7 separate regions of the Homo sapiens genome follow, and all the other regions are reported to be linked to region 1. Evidence: microRNA targets listed by miRTarBase, many of them from high-throughput screens and not tested one by one. Region 1 holds a microRNA gene; each other region holds the end of a gene's coding sequence. Distances are from middle to middle.
What was found. Region 1 holds the annotated microRNA hsa-miR-186-5p (CAAAGAAUUCUCCUUUUGGGCU, at 1,876-1,897, opposite strand). A microRNA usually pairs through its seed, bases 2 to 8, with sites in the 3' UTR of a target mRNA and lowers its output. Matches are read on the target gene's strand: a 7mer-m8 pairs with bases 2 to 8, a 7mer-A1 pairs with bases 2 to 7 and ends in A, and an 8mer does both.

Region 2: miRTarBase lists MRFAP1 as a target of hsa-miR-186-5p. The part of its 3' UTR that is shown has no 7-base or 8-base seed match.
Region 3: the mRNA of GOLGA4 is a reported target of hsa-miR-186-5p. The part of its 3' UTR that is shown has no 7-base or 8-base seed match.
Region 4: the mRNA of FBXO42 is a reported target of hsa-miR-186-5p. The part of its 3' UTR that is shown has no 7-base or 8-base seed match.
Region 5: the mRNA of CD164 is a reported target of hsa-miR-186-5p. Seed matches in the 3' UTR shown: 7mer-A1 at 2,361-2,367.
Region 6: the mRNA of NID1 is a reported target of hsa-miR-186-5p. Seed matches in the 3' UTR shown: 7mer-A1 at 3,274-3,280.
Region 7: the mRNA of PPRC1 is a reported target of hsa-miR-186-5p. The part of its 3' UTR that is shown has no 7-base or 8-base seed match.

Annotation. Positions count from the first base shown.
Region 1 is chr1:71,065,806-71,070,592 of GRCh38, forward strand. It overlaps MIR186 (microRNA 186), which reads right to left and starts at 1,911; the gene lies at 1,826-1,911. ZRANB2 (zinc finger RANBP2-type containing 2) reads right to left here. Exons shown (of 10, transcript NM_203350.3): 8 at 3,471-3,557; 9 at 971-1,129. It overlaps ZRANB2-AS1 (ZRANB2 antisense RNA 1), which reads left to right. Exons shown (of 3, transcript NR_038420.1): 3 at 961-1,379. RefSeq lists a silencer at 2,698-2,747.
Region 2 is chr4:6,640,963-6,643,962 of GRCh38, forward strand. It overlaps MRFAP1 (Morf4 family associated protein 1), which reads left to right. Exons shown (of 2, transcript NM_033296.3): 1 at 1-296; 2 at 768-1,767. The coding sequence ends at 284. Among named protein-coding and RNA genes, the nearest start is that of MRFAP1, 1.8 kb to the left of the region's middle. RefSeq lists a silencer at 691-760.
Region 3 is chr3:37,359,994-37,364,780 of GRCh38, forward strand. It overlaps GOLGA4 (golgin A4), which reads left to right. Exons shown (of 24, transcript NM_002078.5): 23 at 1,250-1,312. The coding sequence ends at 1,279. Among named protein-coding and RNA genes, the nearest start is that of APRG1, 19 kb to the right of the region's middle.
Region 4 is chr1:16,246,981-16,251,767 of GRCh38, reverse strand. FBXO42 (F-box protein 42) reads left to right here. Exons shown (of 10, transcript NM_018994.3): 10 at 1-4,787. The coding sequence ends at 1,098. Among named protein-coding and RNA genes, the nearest start is that of CPLANE2, 12 kb to the right of the region's middle.
Region 5 is chr6:109,365,043-109,369,829 of GRCh38, forward strand. It overlaps CD164 (CD164 molecule), which reads right to left. Exons shown (of 6, transcript NM_006016.6): 6 at 1,472-3,975. The coding sequence ends at 3,809. Among named protein-coding and RNA genes, the nearest start is that of CD164, 15 kb to the right of the region's middle.
Region 6 is chr1:235,974,081-235,978,867 of GRCh38, forward strand. NID1 (nidogen 1) reads right to left here. Exons shown (of 20, transcript NM_002508.3): 20 at 1,750-3,908. The coding sequence ends at 3,787. Among named protein-coding and RNA genes, the nearest start is that of LINC02768, 4.0 kb to the left of the region's middle.
Region 7 is chr10:102,147,761-102,152,547 of GRCh38, reverse strand. It overlaps PPRC1 (PPARG related coactivator 1), which reads right to left. Exons shown (of 14, transcript NM_015062.5): 10 at 4,027-4,176; 11 at 3,854-3,920; 12 at 3,610-3,731; 13 at 3,219-3,370; 14 at 2,215-2,622. The coding sequence ends at 2,519. It overlaps NOLC1 (nucleolar and coiled-body phosphoprotein 1), which reads right to left and starts at 159. Exons shown (of 13, transcript NM_004741.5): 1 at 18-159. The coding sequence starts at 137. RefSeq lists enhancers at 49-98, 269-568, 1-673.

The DNA.
Region 1 (4,787 bases):
ATTATATGTGGCTAAGATAAAAATTTGCAGAAGTGGTAAGAAAGCAACAGAATGAATTCCACTCAAAAACAGAGTAATTTTTTTTACAAAGAAACAAATGCAGAGAAACAAGACTGTGTGAAATCTTAACATCTAAACTCCAAAATGTGAAGAAGCAAAACTAATCATTCTGTACAAGTAGGAATCATGAGATAATCCTACCACTGAACCCAGCAATTAATAGACTTTACATAATCTTTATTTTCACAAGCTAATAAAATATGAAAAATTTGCAAAGACTACAAATAAAGCCATTAAAATGACTATATAATTGGGAACAAAGAGAAAATTAATGAAACTGAGTAATTAGCCTGTTGCAGAAAAGGCTGACAGATGACAGTTGCATTCTTCCAATATTAAAAGTGTCAGTACAGATAAAGTAACCTAATATAGGCCTTTCTCAAAAAAGATTTGGACTGCAAAATGAAAAATGTATTAGCTACAAGGAATAATTTCCTTATAGACAAAGGGCATGAAGCAATTTGCTGTGGAAATGCATTTACACATATTTAAATGAGGACAGATTCCCAATGATCTGAAAGTTAATTTTTTATTAGATGCTCTAGAATTCTTGACTATTAGTATTTAAAGAAGCCTAAGTATAAAAGTCAACTCATAAATTACTTCGACATACAGCTTCTGAATTGCAATCTCAAAAGACAGAAATAACCGAGAGTTGGCTATAAAAATTATAAATGGAACTAAAAATTTAAACAATAAAATGATCAAAGAATGGTTTGATCTACAATTCTAAACAACCTGATCAAAGTACAAAGGATAAGCAAAGTAATGTTTTTTTGAAGTTCAAAGTTGAAAAGTAGAAAGTCGGAACACAAGAGATAATAAAAATCTAACCCTTGACTAGGAAAGTTTACTTTATCTATTAAACACACTTAAGAACACCCATTCTTATTTCTACAGAAACCCAAACCTTTCGGGTGACCGTGATCTTGTTCGTCTTTTTTTGCGATCACCAGATGAAGAAGATCTAGAACGACTTCTCTTTCTGTTCCTCTCAGGAGAAGATGATGAACTTGAATAAGATCTTTTTCGTGGGGAAGAAGAGCCCCTGTGGGACCTGGAGCTGGATCTTCATTGATTGAGAAACAAATCAAACATTTCATTAAAAGAAGAAATAAGGAAGATTATTTAGTTATCAGATAGCTCCAAAAATAAACAGGATTTATAACAACTATGAAAATTTTATAAGGAAGAATACTTACTGCTTATTCAACAGAAGACTTCTGGATCAACCATGAAAACATTCTACTTAAACATTTTAATTTTGTCTCTTTAAAATTCTATCATGTGTAATTAAAACCCTGCTTACTATATCAAAATAGAATTTAAACTTTTTTTAAGGCTTTTCAAAGTATACACAAATATTATAGTATTATAAAATCAGCAGATAACTGCATTAACAGGACTTTACGTTTAGGAACTACATCCTTCCATTTGAGGATTAAAATATGTATCTTATATACCACTTCCTGAGGAAAATAAACATAATTCCATGTGGAATTATTCAACTCATTAAACTGTTATGGAAAAACCAGGTATATGGCACAGCAACAAAAGACTAGTAACTGTACTTAACTGCTAAATATTCAAGAAGAAATAAAAACTAACTTTAAGATGATTTATATTTACAATACTATTTTTATGAAAACCCACTACTTATGAAATATGAAGTGTTGACATTCACATGCTTCAGGTAGAAGTAAATGTGCAAATGTTTAAATACAAATTTTTTTTCTTCACTTGTATATTTTGGTTGAAGGAATTTAGCTCAAACTTCCCAAAAAATTCACCTTTGGGCTTAAAATAAAACCAGAAAGCCCAAAAGGAGAATTCTTTGGAAAGTTACAAGCAATGAAAAAATGTTTGGGAAGAATATGATGGGTGTTCTGTAAACCTTAATTATAATGGTTCCCAAAGGGAATACCAGAACTTAAGGATTTTTACCTATAAAGCGCTTAAATATTGTTACTAAATAATGGTAACAATAAAAAATAATTTGCTCTCTACTTCTATTTTTTTTTTTTTTTTTGAGACAGGATCTTGCTCTGTTCCCCAGGCTGTGGTGCAGTAGCATAAGCATGGCTCACTGCACCCTTAATCTCCAGGGCTCCAGTGATCCTTCCACCTCAGCCTATAAGAACACACCACCATGCCTGGCTGGTTGTTTTAATTTTTATTTTTAGTAGACGAGGTCTCACTATATTGCCCAGGCTGGTCTTGAACTCCTGGGCTCAAGCAGCCCGCCCACCTTGGCCTCCCAAGGTATTGGGATTACAGGCGTGAGCCACTGAGCCTGGCCTTGTTATCTATTTCTTATTGGCTTATAATGCAAGTGTGCACAACATTCTTTTCTCCTTAACATGATTATACTGTGGCAGCCCTTTAATGCTAAATTTGATTCAAAGCAGCAAATACTTTTACCAAAACAGCCACAGTTAGACTTCAATATGAATTTCCACAAATATGGAATTTCATTTTCTTATTTATTTTTTAGATGCCTTTAGGTCATAATAAATTAACTTAAAAACAAAGAGAGCATATTTTGACTAAACAAAGAAAAATTTCCTGCAAGAGCATCTTTCAAATTATGTTTCCCTCTACAGATGTGACTACATGCAACCTGAAACTTTAGAACACTGTTTACTACTTAAGACCACATCCTATCTCAACTAACCGACTATACTTCCTGATTTAGTTTTGAGTGTTTTGTGCTCTATAAATAATAGCGTGTGTAAAATTAGAAAGGAAAATGTATATACAGTACTCTAGTAACTTTATCTGATATAAATGGCAAATTTGTTTCTGAAAATATTGAAACAACTGCCGTGCAAAACAGGACCTGTTTTGAGGCAGGGTTATTTTTCTTCCTTTTAATAATGAAGAAAATTTTTCTTTTTATTTACATATGTAATTTTATTTGAACTACTATTAATTTTTTTTTTTTTTGAGACACTCCTCTGTCACCCAGGCTGGATTACAGTGCTGTGATCAAGGTTCACTACAACCTTGAACTCCTGGCCTCAAGTGATCCTCCCACCTCAGCTTCCCAAAGTGCTGGGATTATAGGCATGAATCACTGTGCCTGGCCATATATAATCTTAATATACTAGAGATGTGGCGATAAGACTTGGCTTCATCTTCCTACTTCATAACATCTTAGTGCCAAAATAATAAACGCTGCATATTGCAAAATAGCCACCTGATTTCAATCATGGGAATGTCTTGGCACACTGCTGGCAATGGAAACATTTCATGGTGAGAAAATTAAGCTGAGGCAAGTGCATTAGTTTTCTAATGCTAAAATAAAATCGACAAGTAGAAGCAAAATAAGGGGAAAAAAAGCAGCAACACCTTCTGCAGCCTTTAAATATTTTTCTCTCTGCTTTACAGAGAGATGCTACCTCATTCACCTTGATTTCGACCCACGAGATCTCGAACGTTCTCTGGAACTGGAACGAGATCTTGACTGCGAACTGGAAGAACTTCTTGAACGGGACCTGGAACAACATGGAACGATTTTTTTTTTCCAGGACCATTTAATTGAGCTTTGTGATATGAACACTGAAAGAAAGATATGTATTAGAGTTCATTTTCATATAAAAAGATAACTATACAAGATATATACTTTCAAAACATAGTATTTTAAATTAGATAAGATTTAGTAACAAAAGGTAATTAAAAAAATATCACTTTCCAGGTGATTAAATTACCCTAAAGCCACTCAACTATAAAACAAAACATTATCACTTTATTACAAAAACAATGAATACTTTGTTTACAAGTAACTAGAAGCTACCCAGAATACATCCAAGAAAACAGAATGTTGCGATTTATACTTAATTTCTCTAAAATGTCTCCATCATTTTCCTTTATAAATCCCCTTCTATTTTTGTTTCTAGTTAGTACAAAGTTTTGAATGTTGGCATGTGTGTATTTCATCCCTATATTTTTCTGTTTACTCAATGCTTAGAGAATTAAAGGGAAAATGTATAATTCTGTCATTGTTAGGTAATTATATTATTGGAAAATATGACACAAGGGAGACATGGTTCGTACAAATTTTAAAACTCACAAAATTCATTAATCTAATTTACAACTATAATTTGTCCCTTATAATAATACCCTGTAGAAAAAGATCACTATATTTTTACCAAAAAATTACTAGTTATAGCCCCACTTTGTTAAGCTTTCAGGCTTTGTAGTGCTCAATTAACATATATCTAATTGTTATACACTAATATCTAGTATTTTATTCCTAAATATGATTAAAATTCATTGCCCATGCCATCACTTAACTGTGATTAAGGTTTTTCAAGAGGACACTGTTAAATTTAAATCACTGCTTTCACTCACCTAAAATTTTATTTTTATTGTTAACTATAAAATCAGAGATTACATATTTTACATCAACAAACAATATTCAAGTACACCAAAAGAGTTTTAGTTTACGCCTGGACTTCTCAAAATTATGAGCATGAAGTCAACAGAACTAATATGGCTGAATTTGCTCCGTTATTCACAATACTGATATCAAAGCAAACTATTAAAAACATTATGTAATAAGCAATGATTTAATGCCTAGAAAATTTCTGTGCTAGCCTTTAACATCTTGAATGAAAATACAGATCTCCCCTTTACTTAATTTCTATATGTAAGCTATCTCTTTAGATTAATTAAATATAAGTGTATATAAAAATTTAATTCAGTTTTTAAGTCTATTTTAGTCA
Region 2 (3,000 bases), not on the chromosome of region 1:
AGATGCGCGAGGACATCGCGTCGCTGACGCGCGAGCACGGGCGGGCGTACCTGCGGAACCGGAGCAAGCTGTGGGAGATGGACAATATGCTCATCCAGATCAAAACGCAGGTGGAGGCCTCGGAGGAGAGCGCCCTCAACCACCTCCAGAACCCGGGCGACGCGGCCGAGGGCCGGGCGGCCAAGAGGTGCGAGAAGGCCGAGGAGAAGGCCAAGGAGATTGCGAAGATGGCAGAGATGCTGGTGGAGCTGGTCCGGCGGATAGAGAAGAGCGAGTCGTCGTGAGCGCGGTCGGCGGTAAGTCGGGCACCCGCGCCAGGCCGAGGAGCGGCCCCAGCTTGGCCGCTCTTCGAGAGCGATGATTTCATCGAGATGCACCGGAATCGGGGGTGGGGCGGGAGAATAAAGGCGTGCTCGGGTCAGGGCCGATCTGGGCCCCGTCTTCGTGTTTTGTTTTTTGACGGTGGCGGCGTGGGATAATCAGAGTGGCCGGGTTTGGGCGTGATGCGTGTTCAGTGGAAGGGTCATAAATCTCAGAGTCGCCAAGGAAACAGAAACGGACAAGGTCCCGGGCCGTCCAGCAAGCGGGGGTGGAAATAGAGGATTTTCGGGGAAGACGTTGGACAAGTCAACGTTGCTAGAGACTGGAGTGAGTCAGGTGGTGGCCAGAAGAGGTGGCGTCCTGCACAGTGGCGTTCGTGAGGGTTTGGGGGTCGTTGTGCCTGGGATTAACCTCTCGATGATGAATTTCTTCCCATTGTGCTTTAGGTTTCCAGCCAATGGATTCTGGTCAACTGGTGGAGATTGGCTGACACCCTGGAGAAGCCGAAACCAGAGAGCCTTTTGTTTTCTCTTTTTTCCTGTCTATGCTCTGTCTCACTTAACACTACGTTTTCTGCTATGGTCTGTGGTTGATGACCTCAATATGAGTTTCGATTGTTAACGTGTTTTTGTTTGGGAAGTAATTTTGTTTGAAAATGCTCTCACATACAGGAATTAGGGCCTAGATTGTAAGCTCTTGCAGCAGTCACATTTGTTCCCGGGCTTTGGTGGTTATTTCTAAATTTTTGAGGTGCTTTGCTATTTCTTGTGTGACCTGATAGCTCCCTGGAACTTTGGGTCTGTGTGTGACACATGAGACTCACAGTTGGAGTTCTCCAGCTCTGGAGGTGCTGAAGGAGCTGCATTAATTCTGGAAGACGACTCCATGCAGCAACTACTGAAGAAAGGACCAGACTTCAACGGGGAGTGTGGATGGGCCGACCTGGCTGGGACTCGTGAATCTGGAGAAGAGCTGGAGAATGGATAGTATTGTCTGTATTTGGAGACTTTAATTTCTGTGTGAGACCAAAGGAGGAGAGATGTGTTTTGTTCAAAATTTAAATTTGTTGTGGTACACTATCTTATGTAACCTGTCTGGTGAGTTTGTTTGGACAACCTAACTCAGCTTTATTTGACATGGAACCTAAAATAGAAGATAAGATCTTGATATTCTGTACAAGTTGATGTAATACCCTGATGCGTTTTAGAGGACTTGGCATAAAATGAAAGATTGGCAAAGGCCCTTGAGGGGCTTGGGGATGACAGTATGGAACTGTCTGCATTGGACCCTAAACTGGACTAGAAGAGGCATCTTCAAGGTTCATACGTTGTCCAGCTGTAAGTTCATTTGAGTAGCAGACCTAACAAATATTTGAGGTCAGAACCCTACCATGTTAAAACAAACAAAAACTTACCATGTTAATAAAAGTATTCATTTGCTTGAAAAGACGAAAGACCTAAAAGGTTATTGAGAAATGTTAGTCCTTTAAGAATGAAATCTGCTGTCTCCCAGATGGTTCTCACTGTCAAATGGAGGGTGAACATCTTAACGGTTTCTGAGGCTCTTAGTCTCTAATCAAAGGGAAGCTTTCTCTCTCTGCTGTTGGGAACCGGGTGAGGAAGAAACACACTTGGTTCTTAGTGTGGGAAGAAACCACATGTAATCCTGTGGTCCAGGCCTCTGCCTTCAGAGAGCCAAAGCACCTTCAGTCTTTCCAATTGGAACATTGTTTTCTAGGCCTTGCACTGGGAATATAGCGATTACAGTTGCAGGGTGAGGGATGACATAGAGGAGATGTGATACCCCACCCTCCTTCCAGATTGAAGCCTTTCTGCCTCAGCTGCTAGAAGTGTTGCTGACAAACACCCTTCAGCTGGTTAGCCCTCTGGGCAGTGCCTTTTCAGAGGAGAGCTGCGTTAGCCAAAGTCATGCCCTTTTCCCTGGGTAGCCTACATCTAGTGAGTAATGGGCTGGAAATCTCAGGTCGCTATTTCTCTTACCCCAATTTGGGACAACTTTGAGGGACATGGTGGCTTCTGAGCTTGTGGGGTCTGCTGAGGCTTTTGTTAGGATTACATCACGCAGCCCACCTCCTCCCCCGTCCCAGCCTTGCATTCCTCCTCTTCCACAAGTGTTAATCCCTAAAAAACGTGCATCTAGTTTTCATCTTGGAGTCCACTTTCTGGGCAACCTAGTTGGTAGAAATCAAACAAAGCCATGTGTCCCTAGCACTAATAAAGATAGAATGTCCCAGGAGAACACTTGAGGGGGAGGTCTAGGAAAGCTTTCCAGAGCAAGTAACTCTTTCAGAGCTTGGCCTTGAAAGAGGAGCACAGCTTCCGAGGTCAGGAAGAGCAGGAGAGGCATGCTAGGCACAGGAAACAATGGAAGATGTTCAAGGTTTTCTGTGTGAGTTCCACACAGAGGAGGGAGAAGAAATGTATAGGACAGAATTATGAACTGGGAAACAACCACGAAAACTACATTTCGTACATTTGCCAAAACAAGAAATGTAACATTGGTACAACACTACCAACTAGACTTTTCTCTGCTTTCACCAGTTTCCCCACTAAGGCCCTTTTTCTGTTCTGGGATACTACATTGCATCGGGAAGTCGATTGTTTTCAATGAGTAAGATTTATAAATGACACGAAAGTGATCCTTCATCTCTCCCCAGCT
Region 3 (4,787 bases), not on the chromosome of region 1:
GAAACATAGAAAGGGAGTCCCTCATGATCTTCAGCCTCCAGACTACTTCTGCTATGCCAGTATCATCTCTGTGAACAGTTTGGGGAATATCTCCATGTTTTCTAAGCCATGTAATTACATATTTATAGTTACTCCTTTATCATTCATTTTATTTTATAAAAATGAGAGTATGCAATGGCTTGCTTTTTTCACTTAATATATTTTTATATTATTCCACCTTATTACAAATTGGTCTCATTCTTTTCAATGGCTGATTGTATGATTATATGGATGTCCTACAGTTTAGTTCACCAGTTTCCTCCTCATTCCATTTACTTATGTTTTCAAGATTTTCAGTACTTTACAAGCATAGACATAGGGAACATCCATATACATGGATTTTGTATACTTCTGCCAGAGAGGATATTAACCTCATTGTGTTGTGTGTGTTGCACATATTATTTTCTAGCTTGTCTTTTGGTTTTGCTGCTTTTTACTAACTTTAAATATGAAAGATAAATAAAATGATGTTTCTGAGGTTGGCCACACTATCCAAGAATAGACTCAGATTTTATAAGCAATCTTTGTTTTTAATGCTGCCATTTTAAATCACCGTGAAGGTAATTAATGATTTTGGACAATGACCATCTTAAAATGGGGCATAGAATTTATTTAAGGTTTGTCACAGTAAAAACTATATTTGAGATTGAGTTTCCTTAAATTGAAATTTCAGTTTGGGTCACCATTCCTGAAACCATTTCTGATACATTGTTGAATTACAAGAGAGTTATTCAGTGATCAAATTGACACATTAGGAATGAGAATTCAACATATAGACACATGGCTCTTCAAATTCATCATCATTTTCCCGAAAACTTTTTAGGGTAAATTGAGATTATGTAAATCAAATTTTAATGTGTACTTTCATGGAATTATGAAAGAGATCCTTTTGTAAAGCAAATAATTGCCCCGTAATTCAGCTGGTAAATATGTACTTAAAATATGCAGTACACCTTTCATTACGTTGTTTAAGTCTTCAAATGAAAGTTGCAAGTAAAATCTCAGCTACATAATATTATATTTACCTAGGATATGGGGGGAGGTATTACAGATTCCTTATTCCTTGCCTGTACACCCTTGATTTGGGGAGATTTGAGAAAAATTTAAGTACAGTCTGTAATCCTATGAACTTCATATACACATACAATCTATGTGTTATATTAAGTCTTAAAACTAACCCAATAAGCTTTTTTTCTTCCTGGCTTTGTAGTTTACTTCACCTCGCAGTGGTATCTTCTGAGTAAACCATCAGTCTGTGCTTAGTTAACATGTGGTGAGTGAAGAACAATGTCTTGTGTCTTTTGTGCAAAAATCAAATGTGTTGCCTGATACTAACCATTTTGCTGGAATTCTTTTGCTCTTGTTTAATAAATATATGATTATGCTATGGGTTAATATAAGTATTTTCTGTTCATTCTGTTATATGGATCGATAATAGTTAAAAATTACTACCACCAGTAAGAGTTATATAATTTTAGGAAATTTCATTTCTTTAAAGAGTAATTGAAAGTTTGAAAATTGCTCTTTGAAATTTTGTTAAAGAATCCAAAAAAGTATTTATGTAACTTATTTTCCCTTTTGTTTTTAATTTTCCAAGAATGATCTTTGAAATTATGATTGTGAGAGAGAAATGAAAAATCATTTTCTAGATAAAAATGAAGTGGTATATTCCGTGAGAATTCAAAATCCTGTAAAGCCTGAGTCAAGGCCAGTCAGAAATAATGAAAACTAGTAAGATCAATTTTAAAATATAGCTTCATTACTTCCTGAAATCAGACAGTTTAACACAAGACAACACATTTGTCCTGAGGAGACCGTTAGGCAGCCTACTTTAATTGAATGTGATTCTTCCTGATTAACATATTACAGTGAAATGCAGGCATATGAAATGTTTCAACGCAGTTGACTGTCTTCATCATTTAAACCCTCTCCCCTCATCTCTATGTATTTTTCATGCTATTAGGTTGATTTAGCACCCTCTGAAAATGTACCATACATCTTTACCTCAGCCTTTGCTAGAATTTTCACAAAATCAAAAACAGATCACAATTAGTAGGGCTTCACTATAATTAAAATAAATACTCTCAGTGATTGTTAATATCCAGCTAATAATAGTATCAAGGTTTAAAATGGCAAGATACAACATTTCTCCGTTCTTTTAAGCTTTTATTTATTTATTTATTTATTTATTTATTTATTTATTTATTATTTTTTTTTTTTTTGAGACGGAGTCTCGCTCTGTCGCCCAGGCTGGAGTGCAGTGGCGGGATCTCGGCTCACTGCAAGCTCCGCCTCCCGGGTTCACGCCATTCTCCTGCCTCAGCCTCCCAAGTAGCTGGGACTACAGGCGCCCGCCACTACGCCCGGCTAATTTTTTGTATTTTTTTTTAGTAGAGACGGGGTTTCACCGTTTTAGCCAGGATGGTCTCGATCTCCTGACCTCGTGATCCGCCCGCCTCGGCCTCCCAAAGTGCTGGGATTACAGGCGTGAGCCGCGCCCGGCCTTATTTATTTTTTTTTAAAAAATAAGTAAAGCCTTTATCACCCTGGCTGGAGGGCAGTAGTGTGATCATAGTTCATTCCTGTGTCAGCTCCTGGGCTCAAGGGATCCTCCCACCTCAGCCTCCCAAATAACTGGGACTCTAAGGCACCTATTTTTTTATTTTATTTTATTTTGTAGTGATGGTCTTGCATAGGCTGGTCTCGAACTCCTGGGCTCAAGCGATCTTCCTACCTCAGCCTCTAAGCTTTTTTTTTTTTTTTTTTTTGAGACGGAGTCTCGCTCTGTCACCCAGGCTAGAGTGCAGTGGCGTGTTTTTGGCTCACTGCAAGCCCCGCCTCCTGGGTTCACACCATTCTCCTCCCTCAGCCTCCTGAGTAGCTGGGACTACAGGTACCCGCCACCATGCCCAGCTAATTTTTTGTATTTTTAGTAGAGACAGGGTTTCACCGTGTTATTCAGGATAGTCTCGATCTCCTGACCTCATGATCTGCCCACCTTGGCCTCCCAAAGTGCTGGGATTACAGGCGTGAGCCACTGTGCCTGGCCCTCTAAGCTTTTATCTTTAAAAATCTTCTGTGCCTTCATTTGAGCCTCCTTTTGATTTTAATATATATTATTTGATTTGCCTTAGCGATTATCCAGAACTGTCTTATTTTTGTCATCCACATTACAATGGCTGGCAGTACAATGCATGGTTTTATTAGGTTACTTTGATAATAAATGTGAACATTGAAAAACTGTAAATTCTATAGCTAACCCATTAAGTCTTAATGTTTTCCTTTTAAAATAATACTGCATTGTACTTGTTATTATTGCAGCTGAATATCAATTATCACTGGAAATGTATATTGTGCAGCATTTCTATTAATTGATTAATTGATTGTCTCCTCAACTTTTAGTTTGAAACATTTCAGACATAAGATTTGCAAAAATAGTACAATGAACACCCATATACCCTTCACCTAGTAATGTTTGGCCAGATTTTCTGACTTGCTGTCACTCTTGTTCTCTCTCCATTTATATTATTCCCCATTTGTAACATTTGGCAATTACTTGCCGACATGCTTGCAAGCATTTGACAATTGTAAACATAAACTAAGTACTTTAGCATGTATCTTTAAGAACAAGGACATTTTTCTACATACAGTACAGTTATTACACTCAGGAAGTTTAATATTAGCTAATACTAATATATAGTACATAATACTCAGTTTTTTACAGTTTTCCAAATAATGTCTCCCATAATTTTTTAGAATCCAGGATCCACTTGAGATTTCACATTGCATTTAGTGGTCATATTTTCCTAGTCTTTTTTAAACTAGAAAACGTCTAGCTTTTTTGTTTTTAATGATGCAGCATTGTTGAACTGATCTTGAATTTTGTTTCCCACAACAGATCAAGCTACGGTTTCAAAATAAAAACTGACAAGGAATTTACGTATAACAGAAGATCTTGTTGGTGTCTTCTTTAGGTTCCTAGGACCAACATGATTATTGAACTAGTTTTATAAATAATATACTATTAGTAGTACATTATGAGTAGTGAAATATTTGTTCATTTACAAATTCAGAAGACTAAAACTCCCCCTATCCACTTAATATATATGGAAAGTTTGCCTCTATTAATCTTACTTGGTAATTTATTTTTATGGGATTTTAAACTCATATCTTGATGTGACTACTGGTTTTAGCATTTTCTTTTCCTTTTCTTTTTTTTATATTTGAGACGGAGTTTCACTCTTGTTGCCCAGGCTAGAGTGCAGTGGCGCAATCTCGGCTCACTGCAACCTCCACCTCCCAGGCTCAAGTGATTCTCCTGCCTCAGCCTCCTGAGTAGCTGGGGTTACAGGTGCCCGCCACCACACCCAGCTTATTTTTTGTATTTTTAGTAGAGACCGGGTTTCACCATGTTGGCCAGGCTGGTCTCGAACTCCTGACCTCAGGTGATCCACCTGCCTTGGCCTCCCATAGTGCTGGGATTACAGGCGTGAGCCACTGCTCCTGGCCAGCATTTTCATTTGAGAAACATTATGAGGAAGACTTTGGCTATGTCATAGCTTTTTTTTTTTTTTTTGCCCCCCAGCATGGTCACACCAGCCTAGAGTGCAGTGGCGTGAACACAGTTCACTGCAGCCTTGACCTCCTGGGCTCAAGGAATCCTCCCGCCTCAGCCTTCTGAGTAGCTGGGACCACAGACACATGCCACCACACCTAGCTATTTTTTTTAAAAAAAAGTTTGTAGATAC
Region 4 (4,787 bases), 55 Mb from region 1:
GTCTTCAGCCAGGCTCCTAGTGGGAGAGCCCCACTCAGCCCCAGTTTGAACTCTCGCCCATCACCTATCAGTGCCACTCCTCCAGCTCTCGTTCCTGAAACCCGAGAGTACCGCTCTCAGTCTCCAGTAAGAAGCATGGATGAAGCTCCTTGTGTTAACGGCCGCTGGGGAACACTGAGACCCAGGGCTCAAAGGCAGACTCCTTCAGGTTCCCGGGAAGGGAGCCTTTCCCCAGCCAGAGGAGACGGCTCTCCTATCCTCAATGGTGGGAGTTTGTCTCCAGGAACGGCAGCTGTGGGTGGCTCTTCTTTGGACAGTCCTGTACAGGCCATATCTCCAAGTACTCCATCTGCTCCTGAAGGATACGACCTGAAAATAGGACTTTCTTTGGCCCCCCGACGAGGATCACTACCAGATCAGAAAGATCTGAGATTAGGATCCATAGATCTGAATTGGGATCTGAAACCCGCTTCCAGTAGTAATCCCATGGATGGCATGGACAATAGGACAGTTGGGGGAAGTATGAGACACCCTCCTGAACAGACAAATGGTGTGCATACCCCACCTCACGTGGCCAGTGCCCTTGCAGGGGCCGTCTCCCCAGGTGCCCTGCGTCGGAGTCTGGAAGCCATCAAAGCGATGTCCTCCAAAGGCCCCTCGGCCTCTGCAGCACTAAGTCCTCCTCTTGGGTCTTCTCCAGGCTCTCCTGGGAGCCAGAGTTTGAGCAGTGGAGAAACAGTGCCCATCCCTCGCCCAGGGCCTGCCCAAGGAGATGGACATTCCTTACCTCCCATTGCTCGCCGCCTGGGCCACCACCCTCCACAGTCCCTAAATGTTGGCAAACCCCTATACCAGAGTATGAACTGCAAGCCCATGCAGATGTACGTGCTGGACATTAAAGACACCAAGGAGAAGGGGCGGGTCAAATGGAAAGTATTTAATAGCAGTTCTGTGGTTGGACCTCCTGAAACCAGCCTGCATACCGTGGTACAAGGCAGGGGTGAACTCATCATATTTGGAGGACTCATGGACAAGAAACAGAATGTGAAGTACTATCCAAAAACAAACGCCTTGTACTTTGTACGAGCAAAGAGATAATGTGTTCTAAACCCCTTTCCTTTTCTGTGGCTTTTAATTTGGAATTTTCCAGTGTGTAAGCATTTGGACTGAGAATTGGGAAAACAAAATTACTCCCAGAAGCCAAAACTCTTTAATTCCCAACCGAAGTCACTCCAGGCTGGGATCAAATCTCCATTAAGAAAAAAAATTATATATAAATATATATATATATATTATATAGCCAACTCTGTTGACAAAAAAAGGGAGAGATTTCCATCCTGGTTCAGATAAAGTTGTTGCTGTGTTTTAACAGGGGCTGGGCTGCCTTTTTCTACCTTGCTGGTAACTAGACCAAGAAGTTAGAGAATAGACTAACATCAGTAACTTCCCAAAAGAAACTGAAGAGCCCCCTGTAAATCTTTATGTGGCCTTCTTGGAGTTAAAAAATGAAAGGGCATATGTAAGTTGCAAAGGTGGAGGGTTTTAGACTCTCATGCTTCAGGTGCTGTCGGGGTAAAAGTAACTGTTTTTCCCCTTCTCTTAAAACCACAGAGGACCTGTGACAGCTCTGCAGAAATGCCAGTGCCTGGCCCCCTCTTGCCTTTTATGGCTGAGGAAAGTTACCCAACAAAGGATTTTATTCCACATTTGTGTGCCGGGTCATTGTGAAATAATGTTTATGCAGCCAACATCTGACCGCCTAGTAGTGTCCATTGGTCTTTGGAGTGCTTCTTGTGTGTCTCAGAAAACATTTTGTGTCTGATTGTGGAAATTTCTGACAATCAATCATATTTGGTGGCAAGTTGCCAAAAAACATATTTATTCTCCTCTTTCTTCCCTTAGAACATGGTACTTGGAAACTGCCTTTTCCATTCACTTACAGGCTGCTTTTTTCTTCTACCTTTTTTCTTTTCTTTTTTTTTTTTCATATGTGGTGAAGTCCTAAAACCTGTCTGACTTTCTGTTTCTTTTACAAAGCTCAGGTGCCTACAGAAATCAGAAGCTGCTTAGAAATACTTGTGGAACCCTTTCCCTGGTGTCACTAGGGGGCCAGTAGGGAATTCTAAGATGCCAATATTGTGAGAAATCTTTGAAGCAAGCATCAAAAGATACTGTTTTTTCCCTATGGGCTTCTTTTTACTTCCAAAGCACATTGAGCACACTCATCCCATATTTGTAGAATGTGGAAATTGATTCTGGAAGGGAATTCCAATAACAGTTCTTTTTAGAAATGTTTTTTTCCTTGTGGTGACATATATTCCTCTTCCTGGCTATTGGCAGGTGATGGAGTTGAGAATCATGTACTTGACTTCTTGACGCATGGCTGACCTCAGAAACAGCTCCATCCTTTGCACTTGTCTTCTTCATGTGTCACCCAAATAGGGCTTGGGTTTTTACTTTCACTTCATTTCTGAGATTAAGGTGTAACCAAGTAGAGCATTTCTTTGCTTGATACAGAAAGTTACTAGTCTCAACCATGGCCTGGGCATAGGAGATGTCAAAATAAGTTTATTTCAAATGGCACCATTTAAATAGGGATTTTTGGTGATTTCTCATCAGTGGAAAGAGGATTTTTGTTTTGCCTTTGTTTTGTTTTGAAATTTAAATCCTAATTTCAAAACATCACCTTGCCACCCTGACACTCCTCTTTTTATTATTAGCGTTTCTCAGGCACAAAGCCTGCTGCAGCTGGCCCTGGGTCCTGGCTTTCAGCCAGCATCTGGCAGCCTAAGTGTACTGATAAGTGTGTTTTCTCCTGTTACATCATGCTGAATCCTTTCCCTTAGCCATTAGCTTTTATGATGTGGTCTTCGTAGGAAAGCCACCCTGGTGCCAAGCCTAGCTTGTGGGGAGGGGTATGTGTTCCAGAAACTGCTCTTTGTGTTCCCTTCAATGAGGAAACAACATGTGTCTACTTATGTGGCATCCAACTGCTTGGAGCTCCACACTTCCCTTTCGCGACTCAGGCTCTGGTGCTGTTGCCAATCCTTGCTTGGCAAAGACTGTTCGATCATGTGGGGTCCTTATTTACAAGGGAAAGCTGGGCCAGAAGGCTAGCAATTCAGGTGTTACCGCTATTGCTGTACCTTGTGTTAGGACATTGTGTTTGTGCATGGACTGTGCCTCCAAACTCAGTAGTTCCTATCTAAATATAAAGTATATTAGAAACCTGAAAGTACAGAATCTCAACCTTACAGTCTTTCCCTTAGTCCTGTGGCCTTCCTAAGCCAGCTGTTAACGTGTTGATTCCTTCCACTTCCCCCAAGTAGGCAGGCAACAGATATGTTGATTGTCTTAGAAAGTAATCTGGTTCCTCTGAACTCCATTGAATTCCAGTTTGACGCATACTGCCTGGAACCAGACTGTTTGCTTACAGCTTTTTAAGAAAAATCTGCCTTGTCTGCCCCCATTATGGTTGGTCTTGGTAGCTCCTGGGCACTGTGGGCGTGTACCATGGGAAAGTGATTCAACACAGTGAAGGTGATTGTCTCCTCAGGCCTCCTGAAGCCACCTGTGCGGTGGGACTTCACGTGTCTCGGCCAAGGCGAGCATTTCCACAATGCCGTGGATGCTGCAGTCAGGCCAGATTGAACCATGACCCCATTTTTCACATGATACCAATTTTGTCTTAAAATTCACTGAGAAAAATGAGACTAAATTTTTTTTAACCCTCAGGAGCACCTGAAGCAAATATTTATCCGTATTTATTGAAAATTCATTTTGTTTCTACTTGAAGCTTTAACCCCTTCCATTCCTGCAAGTGTGCCTTTTGAGAGCTCCCATGGCCTAGTGACTTCACTGGTCACCTTGTCCATCTTACTTAAGAATTTTAGTCTCTCCCTACCCTCTTGGACAGAGCTTCCTGTTCTCTTATTTCACAGGTTATACAGCAGAGCGGGTTTTGTGTTTTCATTCCTATTTCCACCCTTCATTTGGTTGGTGGACTCCACAACCTCACCCTACCCTACACTTTGGGAGCACAAATTTGGTGTTGAAACAAGCTTAAATTTCATTTTAGGGCATACTGGGCTTACTCTCCTCCCAGCTGTCTGTGGATTGATTTGATTTTAATGTTCGAGTTTTACAGCAACAGCTGAAAACCATGAACTATTCTAGGAACTGTGTTGGAACTCTTTAAAATAAAGAAAAGAGGAGGAGGAGGAGGAAGAAAGAAAACCAACTTAAGAAGCCTTGACTTTGGAGGACAGAAAGCCACCAGCCAATGGAGAACAAAGAGATGTTTCCCTTTCCTTTCTTTCACCTTGTCATTCTGGGTTTCCTTCTGCTTCACTCTTTCCTTCCCCCTTAAAAGTGGTATTCCTGGTTGGTCTGTCTGTCTGTCCTTGTCCTTGTGGTGATCCTGGCATGGTGATATGCTCCACTTTGCATTATCCATGGTCTCTTACCAGCGCACAAGTCAGTGGGGAGGATCTAACCACGCCTGGTGGTGAGGAAGCTGAATTTCCAGGCCTGCGTCCCATGTAGCCTCTCCATGAACTGCAGAAGGCATGTTCTGCATGGTTACCAGTAAGTGGCTCCCTCTCACCGTGTTCATTGTCAAATGAGAGCAAACTTTAGGTGTTGGCTCCATTGTACACTCTACTTGCTCTGCTCCCCTCCCTCCAACCAGGGTTCATGTCAGTGCACACCCCATGTGCCCTGGCGAAGCTGGTGCTGTGAGTGATGTTTCCCATACAACTCAGGGATGCCAGGTGGCTTACCCTGAG
Region 5 (4,787 bases), not on the chromosome of region 1:
GGGGCTGGGGGAGGGATAGCATTAGGAGAAACACCTAATGTAAATGACAAGTTGATGGGTGCAGCAAACCAACACAGCACACATATACCTATGTAACAAACCTGCATGTTGTACACATGTACCCTAGAACTTAAAAAATAAAAAAAAACAACTTGGTATAGCCACATACACTACCTTTGAAAGATCTCCAAAAAGTGAATGAACATTACAGGATTAAAAAAAAAACCTACATGACATTATTTTCCAAAGGTACATACAATTATGTGATTATAAATCCATTAATTGTAAACCAGTTACAGTGATTACCTCTGTATCACCACTCTGGTAAGCGGAGGAAGGCAAGAGGAGAAAAGGGCTGGGGATGGTCAAAGCAGACTGACACCACATCTATAATATTTAAATGCAATTTCTTTTCTAAGAAGTATATTTAAGAAAATCTATGTACTAATTGAAAATTTTAAAAATAATACATTATAAACACTATGTTGAACTTTTTCTTCCAGCTGGGATGAAATGAGGCTGGATTCTTGAATGACTAAAAAACACTGGACAAGGCCAGGCACAGTGGCTCATGCCTGTAATCCCAGCACTTTGGGAGGCCAAGACATGTGGATCACCTGAGGCCAGGAGTTCGAGACCAGCCTGGCCAACATGGCGAAACCCCATCTCTATTAAAAATTACAAAAATTAGCTGGCCATGGTGGCGGGTGCCTGTAATCCCAGCCACCCAGGAGGCTGAGGCAAGAGAATCGCTTGAACCTGGGAGGTGGAGGCTGCAGTGAGCTGAGATCGCGCCACTGCACTCCAGCCTGGGCGACAGAGTGAGACTCCATCTCAAAAAAAAAATTGTTTCTAATGTTTACCAGAGTCACTAAGCTTAGCATCAAGTTTTGTATTACTTAAACCAAATGTGACTATATTTAAGGCTAATACAAAACCCAAAATTCATGATTTCTAAAGTGAATTATTCAGTCCACCCTTACAGGTTTTAAGGCTTACAGAGGAGTAAATTCTTAGTTCAAGTCCACTGATATAAAATAGAACATAATTTTGCCCACAAAATAACAAGAACCACACTTCAAAGTCACAGCATGTGGCTTGATAGTAATTTATACCAAATAGTTCTTGGTTTTTACTTTATATGCAATATGAACTAAAAAGGCAGAAAGTCACAAACTAGCTTTCAGATTATAAAACCAAGATAGTATTCCTCTCAAAAATTATTGGAAAACTACAGCATAATTTCTATTGATTTGTGGAAGATCAACTTGCAAATCACTCCCACAAGTGTACCAAGTCCTCCCTCCACCTATTACTTCCAAGGCTCTGCTTTCTATTGATATGAACATGTGCCTTAGTTACTATCGGCTGGTCTAGAGGTGCAATAAAATGAGTAGAAAGCCCACCCCAAGCGGACTAAGATAAATCCACTAAGCATTAAATTTTATAAGCAAAACGCAGTAACACACTATTAATTCAATAAACATGTAGATTTATTTTAAGTCAGTTTGGTACATGATACAGATTGGTTTTGCAGTTTTTAATGAACTGAAATAGAAATGTCTAAATACAGCAGTATCTGCCTGTGCAACAAATATCTGTAAGGTAAAATAAGGTATTTGATAGAAGAACATCTGCAAGAACAAATCAGATGAAAAATCTGAAAAGGTTTCTATATACCTTCTGGATTTTAAAAAAACCCAAAAATTAATGGCTCAAGATACTACATTGCTAAAGTTAGGGGAAAAAAGTAAAAAGGCTGTGAGTTCTGTTGCAAGAGCTCATTTGTAGACTTGCAAAATCTAACTAATTTTATATTATGCTTGTTGTTAGAGCAGTGCTCAAAATTACAGAAGCTTCAAATTGTTATGTTTTCACAAAATTTGCTACATATGTTGACATGAATGTGTGTCAGGGAATTCATACCCAGGTAAATGACAATTACATCAGTATAGCTAATTTTTGCCACCTTGGGAGGAATGGAATTCTGCCTATTTTCGAATTAATCCTACAGCACTCACTAAAAACTAACAGCCATGGCACCATAATACATTTTGTGAGGTACCTAGAATATTACTAATGGAAACAAAAAATGTGAGGTAAACCGACCTTTCCCCAAGAAACTTTGAAGCCAGAGATTTTAAACAATTAAGGCACTTGAAAACATTAAGTATATGTACAAATGTGCAAGTAAAACAAACAGCTGTACCAACGAGTAACAAAGAAACAGTAAATCTTCATCTTAACAACCTTTAATAGTTATCTAAATGCAGAGTTTGTTTATGAAATGAAACAAAGCAGTTTGTCATTTCTTACTATAAAATATTGAAAATCAAGTGCGAAACTCAGCCACTATTGGCTAAAGAAACTAAATAAAAAACGTTAATGACCTAGAAAAGCAAAAGCCCATTTTAAACTACTTAAAGCCTCTGCACTAGTCCAATGAGTCAAAGGCAAGGGAGAAGTAAACCTCTAAAACTGAAGACGACCCTCTAAAGGAGAAAACTATAGAAGTTAAAGTATGCATGCTTATTATACTATGGGAAACCAAGAAGGAAGGGAGAGAAAAAGAAAAAGCACAGTCTATTCATCCAGGACAATCAGTAAAAATCTACAGTAACCTGATCAACCAAAAAATCCTTAGGTGTTGTGAAATTACATTGGTCACTTCTGTTATCTTAAAACTTAAAATGATTGTCTCATTTAAAATAAATGATTCTAAAATAATATGATTGTCTCATTTAAATAGTAAATGATTCTAAAATAATGTATATCCTTCTTGCCTCACCAAAGAAGTCACTACTCAAGACAGTCTGGTGGAAATCCTTTCAAGGTACAATAGTGCTAGCATACTTTTTTTTAAAGTACAAAGGAAAGTGTAATTAAATCAATTTAGCTCTATACTTTTCAACAGCCATAAGAAAAATGTTGGGAGGTTCAAGATACGAAGGCTTTCAATTCTGTATAACAGACTTTAGCTTAAGTTTCTCCGCTCTGAAATAAATTTTCAATAAAATATTAACAGTATGATATCTAAAACAGGTTTACTACTGCTCACATCAAGTTACATCCTCTGACCAATCCTTACCTTCCTTAATGTCAAAGAACAAATCATAGACATTAAGCTAGAGCTTACCTTTCACTGTCTTCTAAGGCACTGTTCTTTATATTCTCAATGACATAAGATGCTTTACAAGTATGAACAATAATCTGTTATACACACTAATGGTATCCTTTCATTTCTTTAAATCTGGAATGTAGTTCCTTGTGTGGCATCTTATTTCTAATGTAGAAAAAACAGCTGTTATCAAGCACAAAATTTTAATCTAAGGATACCATTTAGTACTACTAAATTAATAAATTTATTCCACTTTTGAAATGACAGCCAAAAATCCACCTAATTGATTCTCATTTGGCACGTTCTTCTCAATTCTGTTCACTAAATTAAAATTACTAAATTTAAACTGCCAAGAGCCATGATGTTGTCTGCACAAGACAACATTTTCCATCACTTTCAGAAAGTTATATTTGGCATGTTAAGGAAAAAAAATATAATCCCACAGCAGCAGCTATTTAAAATAAGACAGCCACAGGATTCATGCAGAATATTTTAAATATTCCTGTTGAACACAATGATTTAATTGATTTTTTCTTCACGGATGATGCTCCCAAACATCCTATATGCATCCATGGAAATTTAAAGATCCTGGAATAGCGTCTTCCATGTGGGACATCTTAAAAGATAGTATTTTGGCTTCAGTGAGTTACACAAATGAATCACCAGTCCTTATTAATTCAATGGGTCTGTTTACAGAGTGTGGTAATTTCGTTCTTTAGATTTGCAGAATTTATAAAGAAAGAAAATTACAGCCTGCACACCCAAGACCAGGACAATTCCTCCAATGAAACTGGCTGCATCAAAGGTAGACTTTCGCACAGGTTGTGAGGTTGGAGTCACAGTGTTATTTGTTGTACCTGTTAGATAAGACAAAAGAAACAACAATCCTAAGTTTCATGGTCCTCTATTGTAATTTAAAGATGCACCTGAGCCTCTATTTTGCCATGTGTTAAATTCTATAAAGTATTTCCTCAAGTCTTTACAGCTAGAATTTATCCCTAATTGAGGAAGACAACCATATCCCATTTTTCATTCCACCCAAGGATACAAAGTGGTCAATGCTACTGTACTAGTACAAATATAAAAACAATGGGAAAAATTCTCCTAGTACATAAATTGTGCCCTGGGAATGTATCAAACACTTCTAAAATATGCAACAATTTCTTCAGACTATGTACTTTTAGTTAATTGTGAGTGTAAACGTCAATAGTGCTGAGAATTCACATGACTTTTGAATTTACTAGTATAAGGTAAAATATTTGGTTGCAATTTTTCATGTTACAAAAATAATCTTAATAATATGCAATTTATAATTTCAACAAGTAAAATAACTGTTTTTAAAGGCATATCCTGCCAACAAATTTCACATGAGAAAGTATTATCAAGTAATAAGGAAAAAACAAATATCTGAATTCTTTTCAGGCAGTAAAATGTTTCAAGAGGAAACAGAAAAAGCGATTTCCATTTAAAATAATCTAAGAAAAAAGTAACAGTTATCAAAGAACACTGGTTCTGGTGGCTGTACAAGTTGGTAACTTTAATGACAACTGTTTTGTATTCCTTCTCGTGAAGACAGAATGGCTTCACTGAAACTGAGAAAAAGGTGGCATAAGCATGAAGAAAAAGAAATCACAAAAAGCAGGTAGAAGATTCATTAGCATCAGTTTTT
Region 6 (4,787 bases), 160 Mb from region 1:
AGTACTTGTTTTGTTTTGTTTTGTTTTGATAAAAGCCATCTTAATACTGTAAACTGGTGTCAAATTGTGGTTTTTATTTGCATTTACCTAATGACTAATGATATTGAGCATCTTTTCATATGCTTATTGGCCATTTGTATATCTTCTTCATATAAATGTTTATTCAAATCCTTTACTCATTTTTAAATTGTTTGCTTTTGTTGTTGAAATGTAGTTATATTCTGAATATTAATTCCTTATCACATATAGAGTTTGCAAATATTTTCTCCCATTCCATGGGTTGTCTTTTTACTCTCTTGATAGTATCCTTTGATGCAAAAATGTTAATTTTGATGAAGTCCAGCTTACCTGTTTTTTTCTTTCGTTGCTGGTGCTTTTGATATGTCCAAGAAATGTTTGACAAACCCAGTATCATGAAAATTTTTCCCTATATGCTAGCCCCTCAAGGATCAAAAGCAGCAATCAGTAATCAGAACCCACAACCTTGGTTTTTGGAAAACTGGGTCTTTATTGTCCAACCTGGCTCCAGCAAGCCACACTAAGTACCTGAGCTGCTGTCCCCACAACTGACTGCCCTGGGGCTGATCAAGGTGGGTGGTAGTCACCACTAAGTAAAGAGCTGAAATTGACCAAAACTTGCCAGCCTCCTCATCAAGCTTTCTCCTGGGTGCTGCAAGTGTTCCCTAAGATCCTGAATTCCAAAATAGTTGCATCAGACAGCTCTTGCCAGTTCAATTGTTTTAATGGAGGGATAGATTCCAGGAGCTTCTTATCTCCACCATGGAGCTTGATATCGTCTTTGAGTAACCAGATTTTATGGCCAGCATAAAACACTGGAAGTTTTAGCCCTAACATATGTAAGTTGTCTCTTTCAAGAAATTCACACTGGCAGGCTGTATACTGGCTCCACTGATGGTGCCAATTCCCTTCTCTGCAACAACTGAGCTCTGGACACCTCATTCCTGCAACTTCTGAGCCCCCTTCACTCTGTTCAACTCAGAGGCCATTCTCATCCCACCCAGGGGCCAGCATGAGTGGCACTGCCTGTTGGTGGCAGCTTAGAACAGACCAGGGGTCTCACTCCATAGCCAGTGCCAGGAAAGCATCTTTCTTCCTTCTGGAGGTAAAAAGAGAATTAAAACATAGCTTATCTCCAGAGCTGAATCAGAAAACTTTTTCTATTGCCTGCTTGTAGAATATATTTTCTCAATGAAAACAATATCCAAAAGGGTGGCTTGAAATCTATAATATAATTTATTTTTTATTTTTTTTTTAAGTTTTTGAGATAGGGTCTCACTCTGTTGCCCAGGTTGGAGTGCAGTGGCACGATCATAGCTCACTGCAGCCTTGGCCTCCCGGATTCAAACAATCCTCCCACCTCAGCCTCCTGAGTAGTTGGGACTACAGGTGTGTGCCACCATGCCCAGCTAATTTTTTTTTTTGATGTTTTGCAGAGATGGAGTCTCCCTGTATTGCCCAAACTGGTCTCAAACTCCTGGCCTCAAGTGATCCACCCACCTTGGCCTCCTAAAGTGTTGGGATTACAGGTGTGAGACACTGCACTCATTTTTAGGTAAATTACAACCCCTAAGGTTTTTTGTGGTTGAGAAACATACTAGCTCTCATAATACTGGGATAAGAGTTTCTGGGCTCCACAGGTTTTGCAGATTATTAAGTGGCTGTCTGTCTGTCTATCATGAATCAGCCTCCCAACATTAAATCTCTTCATTCAGAAAAGATAGAGGAAGATTTTCTTTTTTAAAAAAAGTTTATTTTCCACACTATTTGTACAGCTGTAAACTCAAGGAATCATCCAATACTTGTACAAATCTGGGAGAACAGTTAATAAGCACCTTCAGTGGTTTCCACAGTTTAAGAATTTACCATTAAAAAATTTTAGAATAAATCTAATAAAATGAATAAAATAGTTATAAAAATCATACAAAATCATGATGAACATTTGATATAGAGGGTTTAATATGAAACGATAAATACAAAAAGTGAGACTAATTTATGGATTTGGGCTACGTAAAAGACCTACATGGTCCTCGAATCTTGTGATTCTTGGGGCTATATTTGCCTCTCAAGACAAACTCCAATTATTCAAGGAAGACTTTCTTTCAATTCAGGTTCCAATGTACTGCAGAAGCAAGTGAGGACAAAGTCAGGAGAAGGTGGGGCAGAGAGGCTGAGTGTACTGGGGTTTGAGGAAAAGAGGAGAGACTCTTTTCCCCAAAGAGAGTATCAGGCAAATTCTTCCATGTTCTCAAGTATAAGTGGTCTTTGGCAAAATGTACCATTTTCTTTTTGGAGTTACTTAAGAGTTTTACTTATTGCTGTTCTTAAATTCCTTCCCCTACCACTTCCTCTTGGGCTTTTTTATTTCTCTTGTTGATCAATCTCTTTTTTGTGATACTTTTCATTGAATCATCTCGACTCCTTTATCCCATCCTTTACTGACTCAAACTCCTTATGCTGAACTTTTCAATCCAAAATTTCTATTGTTTTAGGACTCTGGGAAGCAGTTGATAAAAAGATAACACGAGCTACTGATATGGTCAGGAGATGTTTTCTAAACAAATTGTAGAAATATAAACATGAAATGTGGCAATGATCCCTTTAATTAGATCATTGAGCAATAAAGGATATGAACCATTAGTATAAATATTCAATTCAGTCTTTCCGGATTGTGTTGTTAGATAAGAATACATCCAAAAAGGGCCACAGATCGAGGGAGAAACCAAGGAGGGGTGAGGTCATGGTTGAGTGTAAATTGGTTCTGTCATGTGGAGGCCGGAGGTGAGGGACTGTGGTGGGACATCATCTGGTGCCAGCCCCATCCTGTACCTCAGATAGGTCTCCGTGAAAAGGAGGGACATCAGTGCAAGCAGTGGGGCTAAAGACCAGCACAGCAACAGAGACTAGAACCTTGGATGCAAGTATTTTGGGCAAAGAGGAATAATTAGTAATCTTTGGTATAATTTAAGGCACATCAAAAAAATCCCCTATTCTCAAATATCTGACCTACACCTTGAAATTCCTACCATTGGACATTCTTTTGATTTAAGCCTTTAACTAACAAATGCCAATATCCTACTGCTCAAATATTGACATTCTATCTGGGAGGGGCTGCTCATTATCATCCACCAAATGCCCATAGATCTCTAGGACAGGGTAGGTTTTGATGAAAAAGCAGCGCATGAATATTATAATGGGGGTCTTAGACAAGATGATGATGGTGAGGAACTGAGGAGTAAAACTATAGGACTATAATAAAGAAGAAATTCAGAGCACCAAAACAAAACATTAAGGAATGCTAATTTCCTCCTTAACTCCCAACTTTTCCTAGTCAGGCCCCGGCTCATAGGTCAAGGAGCTGACAGGACGGTGGGTACCTCAAAGCGAGGCTGAGCTCATAAGGCCACAGGGAAGGGTGCAACTCAAATTTGGGAGGTTCTGTTCACCACTGGGGGGCTAGTATTGGGAAAAGGTCCTAGGACACTGGGATGGGCATGTAATCCTCACTCAGGGGTGTATAAGTCTGTCTGAGGGTTGGGGGTAGGGGTGGAGGGTTCTGTCCTTGTGTAGGGGTGGAGACTTTTCTATTAGAGAAGTCCAGGGTGCATGTTTTGGGGAACAGTGAGGGAAAAGTTGTTGGGGCTCAGGCTGGGCTGGGTCTGGGCCTAGTGGCCACTCAGCCAGAGGACACTTTTCAATCTGGACCAAGTTGCTTCAAGTAGAGTGTTGCTGTGAAATACTTGGAAAGGAAATAAGGCACTCTTGTCTTCATTTCTGTTCGATACAGTCAACTCCCAAGGTGTTGTCAGGGCAACGGCAGGTCCTGCTCCCTGGGGTGGCCAAGCATAGGTGGGTGCAGCCGCCATTGTTCACTGAGCAGTAGTTATGGCCTGGAAAAGGCAGAAATCAGTTCAATAGCCCTCTCTCTGATCTGACTCCATAGCCATTTAAGATAGTGGGCTCCTTCTTGTGTGTGATCCCCCTTTTAGTTTCCTTGAAGCCATGCTAGGAAGGCTTCAGGAGAATGGGGACACTGTGCTAGGCAGTCAGCTGAGCTGATCCATTGTTTGTTTTATCAGCATTAAACCAGACACAAACACTGATTCCCAACTTGGGGGTTATGCAGATTTTCTACTAAGGCTATTAAACAGATCTCAGGGGGAAGTTCTCCAGCTCTGATTATAACATAGAATTGGAATTTTAAAGTGCAAAGTTCTTTTTATGTAGCTTGCACTCCTAGCTTCACACTGACAGAAGAAGATGAGGGAAGCTGAGAAGGAAAGTGGGTGAGGGGAGAGGCCTTCAAGAGGCAGCATAGCATAGACTCCAGGGCCAGGCTGCCTGGACTTGCCCCTGTGAGCTGTGTGACTTGGAGCAAGTTGCTTCAGTTTGCTTATTTATGAAATGAACATAATAATAGTACCTACCTCACAGGGTTGCTATGAGGATTACATGAACTAACAAATACAAAGTATTTAGAACTCTAAGTGAGTTGATATATGTAAAGTTCATAGCTCACAGTAAGTGCCACACATATGTTTTCAATTCTTATTATTAATTATTGTTATTGCTGTTAGGCCAGATGGATGGACTTTTAAAGGAGCAGAGATCCTAACATTGTAATATCCTAACCTGACTATTTGGAACCTGAAGACCCTATGCTTTTATATCCAGCCCAAAACTCAATGCTTTTCCTCATCCTGACAACTTCATGACCTAATATTTTCTGTTTATTTAACTGGTTCACCTGCTAATGAAGACCCTGGATG
Region 7 (4,787 bases), not on the chromosome of region 1:
CCAAGCCCGGAACTCACAGCTCCTGTCGCTTTGGCGAACTTATTGGCCACCTCTGAGAGTTGGTTATCGCGCAGGAAGCCGAGCACGAGGGGATACAGGTCGCTGGGAACCACGCGGCGAATGCCGGCGTCCGCCATCCTCCAGGCAATACGCGTCACTACCGTTGTCGACGCAGCACGACTCAGGAACCCAACAGGGGCAGTGGGCGGGCCTGTGTTACGTCATTGCGCCGCGCGGGCGCATAACGGAAAGGGTGGGCTCCACAGGGCAGTCCCACCTTCACCTCAGAGGTAGGGTAGACGGGAAATCTATAAACTCTTTCCGGTCCCACGCGTATCGCCATCTTGGTTAAGGGCGGAGCCCACCGGCCGCCAGCTTGTGGAGGCGGAGCTCTGACGTCAGGGATCACGCCCTCGGCGTGGCGGGAAAACTCGGGACTTCCCGCGCAGTCTTTCTGGGGGAGGTACCTTTTCTCAGAGCAGCGGTTTCCCGCGCCCCTGCTGGGACTCGGATTCCAGAGTAATGAGTGGACAAGCGGGCTCGAACAGTTGTTCTACAAGATCTCCCAACCGCCCCCATGGCGTACTGGCACGGCCAATGGATTCTCGCCCTTCATCTTCACTGCCTCCAATACCCAGGGAGGCCCTTTCTGATACCATCCCAGCCTCCAGACTCCTGCCTCTGCTGCAGAAGATCCTTCGGGTTATCCGTCGTGAGGGTGGGAGGTGTTGATTTCCCAAGCTGCCCCTCCCATCTCCCTTATATTCCGCCTTAGGTCAGCTCCATGAAGAGGAAAGGTGTCATGCACCAAACCTGAATCACACACAGCAACAATCTATTCAAGCTGAAGAGATTGTTGAAAATAACCCTTCTTCCTCCGGGATCAGAGTTCACACTCTGCCTTTGTCATGAGTAACTCCAGTATCAATGCCTTTGTCATGAGTAACTCCAGTATCAATGCTCAGACCTACCAAGTTAATTCCAAGTTCTGCCACATTCCAGATATTAGCAGTTAGCAATCCCTTCAATCCTACCCACTACCCCTTGGCTACCTCCCACTAATGCCGCTCAGGAAAGATAAGGATCCTCATGGGAACACACCCCCCTCTCCTATATAAAATTGGCCAGGCATAGTGGCTCACAACTGTTATCTCAACACTTTGGAAGGCCTAGGTGGGAGGATCCCTTGAGCCCAGGAGTTAAGAGGCCAGCCTGGACAACACAGTGAAACCCCCCTATCTCTACAAAAAATTTTTAAAATTAGCCAGGTGTAGTGGCATGCACCTGTGGTCCCAGCTACTTGGGAGGCTGGGGCAGGAGGATCAACTGAGCCAGGGAGGTCAAAGCTGCAATGAGCTATGATCCTGCCACTGCAATCCAGCCTGGGCCACAGAGTGAGATCCTATCTCAAAAATCAAAAACAAAGCTGGGCACGGTGGTTCATGCCTGTAATCTCAGCACTTTGGGAGGCTAAGGTGGGTGGATCACCTGAGGTCAGGAGTTCAAGAACAGCCCTGGCCAACATGGTGAAACCCTGTCTCTACTAAAAATACAAAAAAAATTAGCCAGGCATGGTGGCGGGTGCCTGTAATCCCAGCTACTCAGGAAGCTGAGGCAGGAGAATCACTTGAACCCGGGAGGCAGAGGTTGCAGTAAGCCAAAATCGTGCCACTGCACTCCAGCCTGGGAGACAGAACAAGACTCCATCTCCAAAACAAAACAAAAAAATTCAAAAACAGAAACAAAAAACTCCACAGTTCCCTCTTCCCCACGCTTCCTGTTCTACCCACATGCATGCATTATTTAAAACATTTGAGCACCTGCTGTGCCATGCAGTGTGCTCAAGCTATTATAAAATGATGAACATAACTGACATGATGAATGTATACACCTGTCGCAGTTTAGAAAACCTTTCTTTGGAACAAGTGTGAGCTTCTCTAGGTCCTTGTTATCAAAATCCCTTCCTGGACCAGTATCATCATCCCATTGTCAGAATCTACATTCTAAAAAGATCGCTAGATGATTCAAATTCCCTTTAAAGTTGAGAAGCACTGTCCTAAATGACTCATTTTAGACAATACATCTGAGGAACCAAGGTTCAAATCCAGTGGGATTTTTGCACCTGACCAGGGAGAGGCATGTCCCTGGACCATGTTCAGATAGGAAAAGTGAATACATTTGGCATTAGCACCATATAAAGACGCACAACAGCAGTTGGGAGTTCTCTCTAGTTGATGTTTATTAGTCTGCATAGTGACTTATGTTCCAAACACTGGGGATCCCCTCAGCCCCTCCTATCTTACATAGGAATGCAAGTTAACTTGTTTCAATACCTGTTATAAAAAAACAAATACCCCTTTTAAAAAATCTGATTCAACATATTTTTTATTTCACTTTTTTCCATTTCTTTATAAAACAGTCATCTCACTAGCAGCTCTCTCCCCTAGAGTAGGGGAAGGGGGTGGAGGAGGTTGGGCACCTCCAAAGGAGAAAAAGGATAGCAGGGAAGGGCCCAAGGTTACCTCCTGAGGTTCTTCTGGGCCTGTTTCAACAATGTGTCAAAGTCAAGAGAATCAAATTTGCTCTTTACAGGTGCTGGGTCAAAGTCTTCCCGGTTGGAGTCTATAAAGGTAAAGACAAACTTCAAGGTCTCTGACCACACTTCCCAACCACAGGGTCTGCAAATGGCTAGCTATCTCCCATCCCAAAAACGGATGGAGTGAAAACTGCTCTAATTTTAAGTCAAAGAGATAGGAGAGTCCCCAGTCCCCATTTCTCCTCTCGTCCCACCCCTTGGGTCTTTTTTTTTTTTTTTTTTGAGACAGTCTCGTTCTGTAGCCCAGGCTGGAGTGCAGTGTTGTGATGTCAGCTCACTGCAACCTCCGCCTCCTGGGTTCAAGCAATTCTCCTGCCTCAGCTTCCCGAGTAGCTGGGATTACAGGTGCGTGCCACCACCTCTAGCTAATTTTTTCTATTTTTGGTAGAGATGGGGTTTCATCATGTTGGCCAGGCTGGTCTCGAACTCCTGACCTCGTGATTTGCCTGCCTCAGCCTCCCAAAGTGCTGGGATTACAGGCGTGAGCCACCATGCCCAGCCCCCTTGGGTTCTTTGTATGTCAAACTAAGGTAAGTCTGCCTAGCCCCACTCACAAAGGGTTAGGAACCCTTCTGGGGAGGGGATGAAGCATTCCAAAGCTTTAGGCCCTCCCTCCACTCACCAAGATCAGAATAGCTCCTCTTGCAGAACTGCCTTCGGCCCCCAAAGCAGAGATCAAAGGGCTGCTCATCTGCCTGCCGCAGCTTGTGGCCACTCTCAATGGCTGCAAATGCCTCCTCAGCATAGCGATAAGTGACGAAGCCGTAGTTGTCCCTAGTAGGAGGAGAGTGAGGCAGGGGCTGGAGTGGCTATATGGGCCCATGCCATAGAGGAGACACAGCATCCCAAGGTACAGAGGTGGTTCTTCTCATTCCCAGTGGCCAACCCTCTGACTGCAGAAATGAAGGTGCCCCATATTGCTCAGCACACCAGAGCAAGGAGGCAAGACAAAGAAACACCAAGGTAGATGAATGGGATAGAAAGAACATCCTGAGCCTGGGGCCCAAGCTTACCCTTGGACACGGAAGTGGATGGTGCACTCCTCAATCTCTCCAAAAACGGAGAACCTCTGTTTCAGCTCTGATCGAGTCATGCGGCCAGGTATCTTTCCAATGAAGACCACCCTTCTTTCTTCCTATGTTTGGAAATGAAAAAAAATCAACACACCATTAGCCAGGGCTACAGCTGCAGGCAGCTCTCTGAGCTCAAGGCTCAGGGGGTAAGCCCCATCCTCCCATGATCTGTTCCTCTACTCACTATTGCACGCTCCTTTTGTAGCACTCTTTGCCTTTGGTAATGGTCATGTGAACGATAAGAGCTGTACCTGACAAAAGAGGGTGTCATCAGCCCCCCAAACATAAGACAATTCAAGACTCAACTCTTAGGCACCTGCATCCCAGGTGCATGGCGCTCCCTGAACACATGCTCACCGCCGCCTCCTGTCACTTCTCCGGCGGGGGGATGGGGATCGTGAGCGGCTTCGAGAACTGGATGATGAGGATGAGGAAGACGAAGAGGAAGATGATGACGAAGAAGAGGAAGAGCATCTTCGAGAACGTCCAGAGGAACTACAGCTGGACCTGAAGGATAAGAGGGCATGCAGGAATGCTGGGAGTGGTTCAGGTATACTCTGCTTATCTCACCCAGGCCCCAGTCCTGCCTTTCTTTTAGGAAGCTCAGGACCAAAGACAAAGCAGAGTAGAAGAGGTCTAGAAGAACAATTTTCATTCAGAGATGAACAAACTGAGGCCCTTCATGGAACTTTAGGTGTACCTGGAATGTTGTGAAGTGTTTTGGAAGAGATCACATTTTCAATTGTGCACTTAAAAATTGAAAAATATTTAACAAATCAGAAAGAGGAAGAACAATAAATGGAGACTCAGGGAGAGGGGTGAGCCCTAGGTCTCACACCCAGCTATCTGTGGTGCTGGGGCCAAGCCTGGGTCTTTTGGGTTACTATTGCTCCCCTACCAGGTCTCACTGAAATACTGTGACCATGAGAGAGGTTAACTGCTAGACTTGTAGTATGGGCCAGTTCTGAAGACATATATCATCTCCAAAACCCAAGAATTCTTCATTAAGTGGGAAAACTTGGTTACTGAGAAAAAAAGATACTGCCAGGAAATAGATGAGGCCATAGTGACACCCAAAGGAACTGCCCCAGACACCTTCCTCAGCAGATGATTAAGGG